Linked DNA regions of Homo sapiens. The protein of the gene in region 1 purifies or fractionates together with the protein of each later gene. This does not show direct contact. Each region holds a gene or a part of one and is shown in the gene's direction. Other genes may lie near its edges.

Evidence for each region. The genes of interacting proteins can lie anywhere in the genome.
Region 2: the proteins of TRMT5 (region 1) and ZFAND1 fractionate together in Homo sapiens (co-fractionation; one large-scale study listed by BioGRID). This does not show direct contact.

The regions. Positions count from the first base shown.
Region 1 is NC_000014.9:60,971,080-60,974,579, reverse strand, and holds the end of TRMT5 (tRNA (guanine(37)-N(1))-methyltransferase), read left to right. Parts: 3' UTR 1-3,139; downstream 3,140-3,500. UniProt on the Homo sapiens protein: Involved in mitochondrial tRNA methylation. Specifically methylates the N1 position of guanosine-37 in various tRNAs. Methylation is not dependent on the nature of the nucleoside 5' of the target nucleoside.
Region 2 is NC_000008.11:81,700,837-81,704,300, reverse strand, and holds the end of ZFAND1 (AN1-type zinc finger protein 1), read left to right. Parts: intron 1-1,176; coding exon 1,177-1,332; coding exon of another isoform or gene 1,333-1,380; exon of another isoform or gene 1,381-1,387; intron 1,388-1,435; coding exon 1,436-1,606; 3' UTR 1,607-2,964; downstream 2,965-3,464. UniProt on the Homo sapiens protein: Plays a role in the regulation of cytoplasmic stress granules (SGs) turnover. SGs are dynamic and transient cytoplasmic ribonucleoprotein assemblies important for cellular protein homeostasis when protein production is suspended after acute exogenous stress.

The DNA.
Region 1 (3,500 bases):
GTGACGTGAAAATTTTATGACATCTATTATGTATCAGTTTTAAAAATTAGAATTGTATGAAATTAAGAGTTTCAGAGTTCATAAAGTTTGATTGGAACATACCATGCTCATTTGTTTACATATCATCTGCAGCTGTTTTTTGTTTTTAATATGGAACGCTTCACGAATTTGCATGTCATCCTTGCGCAGGGACCATTCTGATCTTCTCTGTACCATTCCAGTTTTTTAGTATATGTGCTGCTGAAGTGAGGACTGCAGCTGCTTTCTTGAACAATAGCAGAGTTGAGTGGTTGCAACACACACTGAATGTGACTGTCATCACTTCACACTGCTGTTTGACACATCACAAATCACTGATGTGGTTGTAACGACAGCATTTTGAGTGCCATGTATATCACATGAACCCACATTTTATTTTTTATTACCAGAGCATATCTATTATAGCAAAACAAGAAAAGTGGACTTTGTTGTTATTTTTAAAGTACAGTAGGGTGTGAATTATTTTGATGTTGAATTAGACGACAAAGCATCTATATAGCTAAGCTAAAAGAATAACCATTGACATTACCAGACAAACCACTCATCACAGTATTCCCAACTCACAGGCAAGCAACTGTTAGAAAAATTAGAAAATTTAAAATGGAAATAACAAAGCAGAATTTCTTCACAAAATGAAAATGAGGCTGCAACAACAGTAAGTCTCTAAGTCAATCATTTGTTAGCCAAGCAAAGCCATTTATTGATGGTGTGAATTAATTATGTTTGGATGCAGCAGCTGAATATATCCAGAGAAAATAAACTTAAGATTACTGGCCTTTGGCAAGAACAGTTGCTTAAAGAGTTAAGGACATTGAAAGCGACATAAATAGTCACTTTAAAAAGGAAATGATTCTGGATGGTTCTTTGACTCTATTTTTATTTTTACTTAGAGACAGGGTCTTGCTCTGTTGCCCAGGCTGGAGTGTAGAGACACAGTTACACCTCAATGTAACCTTGAACTCCTAGGCTTGAGATCTTCCCATCTCGGCTTCCCAATGTGTGAAGGTTACAGGTGTGAGCCCTTATATGTGGCCCTCGTGAATGGTTTAGCACTATCCCCTTGGTGGTGTCCTTAAGATAATGAGTTATGAGATCTTGTTGTTTCAAAGTATGTGGCACTCGCCCCCCACACTCTCTTGCTCCTGCCTTCGCCATGTGAAGTGCCTTCTCCTATTTTGCCTTCTACCATGAGTAAAAGCTTCCTGAGGCTTCCCCAGAAGCAGATGCCAGTGCTATGCTTCCTATAGCCTGGAGAACTGTGAGCCAATTATACCTCTTTTCTTATAAATTACCCAGTATCAAGTATTTCTTTATAGCAATGCAAGAATGGCCTAAAACACAAGGCAAAACAACTTTGATATGGTACAGTCATTTTGACAATCGATATTTGAATCACAATATTTGATGACAATATCCTTACACATTTGTCATACTATCAAAGAGAAAGAAACAAGATTTCCATTCCCACAAATTTTAGTGAGTATATTTTCTGAGTTCAGCATTTTTAGGGACCTAGGTGCAAGTGCAAAGGAAATTTCCCTGTTTCAAAATCTATTTAACTGCAATTGAGGTGATTCAACCTAATTTTCAGTAAGAAGTGATTAAAATAATGACATGCTAAAAGGCAAATTTCAAGGGAAGAAATGTAAAAGAATTTTACAAATGCTTTCCAAGTGATGAATATGCTCAGTTAATTTCATATGCTCCTGGATTGATAGCAGTATTTGGCAATACCTATCTGTATGAGAAGACATTTTTAAAGATGAAATGTGTAAAATCTTATTACCATTAGTATTAATGGTTAATGATGGTTAATGATAACCATTAATAGGCAATCATTTACAACTGATTTTGATCACAGGGAACACTTACTTAGAACCCTGATTAGAGGCAATGTTATTCTCACCAAAAAAGGCATTACAAAAAATTGGGCTATATTTTGAATTTTGTCAATTAAAAAAGCGTGGGAGCAGTGTGAAGGAGAAGAGGCAAGAACGACCCCTGGACCGACCAAAGCCCGCGCGCTGCTGCGTCCCACACCCGGTGCCCACATCCCGCCGCCGCCGCCGCCGCCATGCCCAAGAGAAAGACTGAAGGGGATGCTAAAGGAGATAAAGCCAAGGTGAAGGATGAATCACAGAGAAGATCTGCGAGGTTGTCTGCTAAACCTGCTCCTCCAAAGCCAGAGCCCAAGCCTAAAAAGGCCCCTGCAAAGAAGGGAGAGAAGGTACCCAAAGGGAAAAAGAGAAAAGCTGATGCTGGCAAGGAGCGGGAAGGTGCTGGAGATCCCAAGTGAAGTGTGTGCATTTTTTATAACTGTACTTCTGGTGACTGTACAGTTTGAAATATTCTTTATCAAGTTTTATAAAAATGCAGAATTTTGTTTTACTTTTTTTAAGCTATGTTGTTAGCACACAGAACACTTCATTGTTGTTTTTGGGGGAAGGGGTATGTGTCACTAATAGAATATCTCTGAAGCTGGATTGATACGGGGAAAACATCTTTCCCTTCTAGTTTTGAGAGACTTCCTCTTGGCTCCCAGGAGGAGGGATTTCCTGACTTTGACACACATGGCCACCTTGGCACAAAAGCCTTGTGGTATGGAAAAACAAATTCGTTTTTATGTCTTCTTTTCCCTTTCCATCTTTCAGCATAGACTTAATCCCCTTAAGCCCAGACATCTGTTGGGACCTGACCCCCGGTCATTGGTTACCAGTGTGTCTGGCAATCTGGACTTTCCAGTGATGCCACTGAGATGGCACCTGTCAAAAGAGCAGTGGTTCCATTTCTAGATTATGGATCTTCGGATAAATTCTGCCATTTTCATTTCACTTCCTGAAAGTCAGGGTTGGCTTGTGAAAAGTTGTTAAACAACATGCTAAATGTGAAATGTTAACCCTCTAAACTTTCCCTGTTCAGAGCATCAGATGAGGACTTCATTGGGTTTTATAGCGGCTGATTTTTGGTAGTCCATTGAAGAAGAGAGTTTGAAAGTTGTATACTGTTAATGACTGTCTGCCCATGTCCTGCCTGAAATACCATGATTGTTTATGGAAAGTATCTTTAATAAAGCTGGATACAGTTTGAAAGAAAAAAAAAAGTGTGGCAATTTGTTTTAGCTTGTTCTGTAAGTACCTACATAATATCCACGATTTTGCTTGTTACCCTGCAAAGCCTAAAATATTTACTATCTGGCCCTACAGAAAATGTTTAAGAACCCTAATCTAGATCATTAATTACAAATTCAAATGCCTTCAGAAGTCTGGCAGGTCATGTAAACAAATGAAGGCAATAAATGATAAGCAGTATAGGGATGTAATGAACTGGAACACTCATTCTTACTTAATTCAAATTGTTTTGAAACAGCCCAAGTATTGTACACTGATGTCCTAGGTTATAAAGTATGTGTACAAATGATGTTCTTATTTATACATGTAAAGTGGTAAGACTCTTGTCTCCAT
Region 2 (3,464 bases), on another chromosome or scaffold:
CCTCCCGAAGTGCTAGGATTATAGGCATGAGCCATCATGCTCAGCCATCCATTTGTTAATTAGGCAAGAAAATACAATATAAGGAGAGGGCAGATAAGATATAGAATACTAGAGAAATCCTTTCCAAGTCCTTTCTTTTGTTGATAAGGTACTTGGGGTTTGGAGGTCTTTTTCTATCTCTTTTTTTTTTTTTGTTTTTAATGTTTCCTTGTTCCGAAAAGTCCTTCTGTCTAAATACATAGTGAGGTCTTTCACATAAAAAGAAATGTTGTATGTGTCAGAAATCTTTGAATTGCAAGTGACGGAAACTTGATTCCAACTAGGAAAATCAAAACAAACTTTTTTCCTCATATAATGGGGAATAATGAATTGATCTGGTCTTAGGGGATGAATTCAGGAACTCAGATTATGTTGAAAGAGCTCATCTGTTTTCTTGTTATTTCTCTTTCTACATTGACCTCATTTTTTCCCATTCGAGGAAACTTTTTCCACATTGGTTCAGGAATGGCTGTTAGGTGACGGGGTTTGCTGTAGGCAACTCCAGGTTTAATTTGATAAAACTTAAAAAAATAAGGAGAGGCCGAGTGTGGTGGCTCACTCCTGTAATCCCAGCACTCTGAGAGGCCGAGGCGGGTGGATCACCTGAGGTCAGGAGTTCAAGACCAGCCTGAACAACATGGTGAAAGCCCGTCTCTAGTAAAAGTACAAAAATTAGCTGGGCCTGGTGGCACGTGCCTGTAATCCCAGCTACTCAGAGGCTGAGGCATGAGAATCACTTGAACCCTGGAGGCGGAGGTTGCAGTGAGCCAAGAACGTGCCATTGCACTCTAGCGTTGGCAACAAGAGCGAAACTCCCTCTCAAAAATAAATAAATAAATAAATAAGGAGAGTGCTCTTTGTCTCCTAAGCTGTTGAACATAAAATCCCAGGAACAGATCTGATTGGCCTAACTTAGGCCACATATCTGTCTTTGCACAGATCACCCTGGCCAGGGTCTTGGTCCTATGCCCATGCATTTATGTGTGTTTTTGGCTACTGTGATTGGTATTCCAAGTAGCAGATACCTTGTTAGAAGGTAATTCTGCTCTGACCAGAAGAGAGGAACGGTTGGCACCAGACAAAAACTGATGTCTATTTTGTCTATGTAATGGTTGTTTTAACTTTTTCTTTTTACAGACAGAAAGAATTTACTTTCAGGTTTTCTTACCTAAAGGGAGCAAAGAGAAGAGCAAACCAATGTTCTTTTGCCACCGATGGAGCATTGGAAAGGCCATAGACTTTGCCGCTTCTCTAGCCAGGCTTAAAAATGACAATAACAAATTTACAGCTAAGGTAACATCTCATTATAATAATATTTCTATATTAATAAAGGTTTTATGATGCTCCATTCAAGCATGTTTATTTATTACAGTATGACTTACTTCTCCCTTCACAGAAATTAAGGCTGTGTCACATTACTTCAGGAGAAGCCTTACCCTTGGATCATACTTTGGAAACCTGGATTGCTAAGGAGGATTGTCCTTTATATAATGGTGGAAATATAATCTTGGAATATCTTAATGATGAAGAACAATTCTGTAAAAATGTTGAATCTTACTTGGAATAGTCATTCAAAGATTCAAGTCAGAAATCACAGGGAAAATTCTATTACATGTTTAAGTCCATTTATTTTACTACAAATACTATTTTTGTAATTTTTAAAAGTTGCTTTTTAACTTATTTCCCCTTATGTCACATTTTAAATTATGAGTTTTCTATTAGAGTTTTTTGGTTTTAAGTTTAATTGTGTACGGATCCTCAATTATTAGCAAATTCTTATATTTAATTAGCTTTCATTAGTTTATGCTGTAGTGACAACAACAAAGATGTATTTCCTGGTGGGGGATGTCAGCTGTTGATTGGCTGTGACACTGCTTTGTGTCATCTTCTTACCATGATCAAAGGCAAAGGAAGGGATCTCTTTTGGGACATTGTGATTGTTTTAGCAGAGAGAGAAAGAGATGAAATACACTTCGGTTTTCTCTTAAAAGATGCATGTATCATACGTGCTTTAAGCAAGTCATGTGGCCAAGCCTAGCATCATGGAGCCAGAAAGTATAGCCTTGCTGTCTGTCTACATCATGATGTATAAATTGATATATCTACATGAATTATAGAAACTTAGAAGTGATCTTTATTCAGTCTTATAATTTTTACATGAAGAATCTTAGGCCTAGGAGGAGAAAATGATTTTCTTTCTATTACCTAACTAGATTGGGGCATATTTCTGATAAAGACCCACCTCTAGTGAGATTCATCTTTTTTGTTTGTGTGACTATATTCCATAGAGAAGAAAGATGGGATAGCTCAACTTCATTATATACCAAAGCAAAACACATGCCAAATGATGACTACATTTTACCAACATATTTAGACGAGTATTCTTGACTAGTGTTTACTATCTATACCCCCAAAACTACTACTATATAGACAGAATGGAAAGTATTTCTATTTGTCCTTTTTTTGTTTTCTGTTCTAATTGTCAGGGACATATGTAGTGGCTATAGGTTTACTTAAAAGGAATAAATTTGGAATGCTCATTTGGTTTATTTCCTTTCTAATTCTTCATATTATTTTTATGTGAGGAATGGAGATAATTTCCAACTTTTATTATGTTCTTGTACTTTCATTCATTAGCATAGTTATTTGAGTTCCCACTAAATGTAGGGATTTGTCCTAATTGCCATGATTAATACAATGATGATATGTATACATACAGGTATACCTTGGAAATATTGTGGGTTCAGTTTCAGACTACCACACAAAGCAAATATTGGAGTATATTGAGCCAGACAAATTTTTTTTTGTTTCCCAGGGCATATAAAAATTATGTTTACACTATACTATAGTCTATTTAATGTGCAATAGCATTATGTCTAAAAAATGTATATACTTTAAGTAAAAAAATACTTTATTGCTAAAAAATGCTAATAATATCTGAGCCTTCAACAATTTGTAATGTTTTTGCTGATGGAGGGTCTTGCCTAATTTCAATAGCTACTGACTGATTGGGGCGGTAGTTACAGAAGGTTGGGGTGGCTGTGACAACTTCTTAAAATAAGACCACAGTGAAGTTTGCCACATTGATTGACTCTTCTTTTCATGAAAGATTTCTGTGTAGCATGCAATGCTTTTGATAGCATTTTTTCCTGAGTAGAACCTCTTTCAAAATTGAAGTCAATCCTCTTAAACCCTGCCACAGCTTTATCAACTAAGATAATGGAATATCTAAATTTTTTGTTACCATTTCAACAATGTTCTTAGCATCTTCACTAGGAGGAGATTCTCTCTTATTTTATTTATTTATTTATTTATTTTTTCTGAGGTGGAGTTTCACTCTTGTTGCCCAGGTTGGAGTACAGTGGTGTGATCTTGGCTCACTGCAACCTCCGCTTCCCAGGTTCAAGTGATTCTCCTGCCTCAGC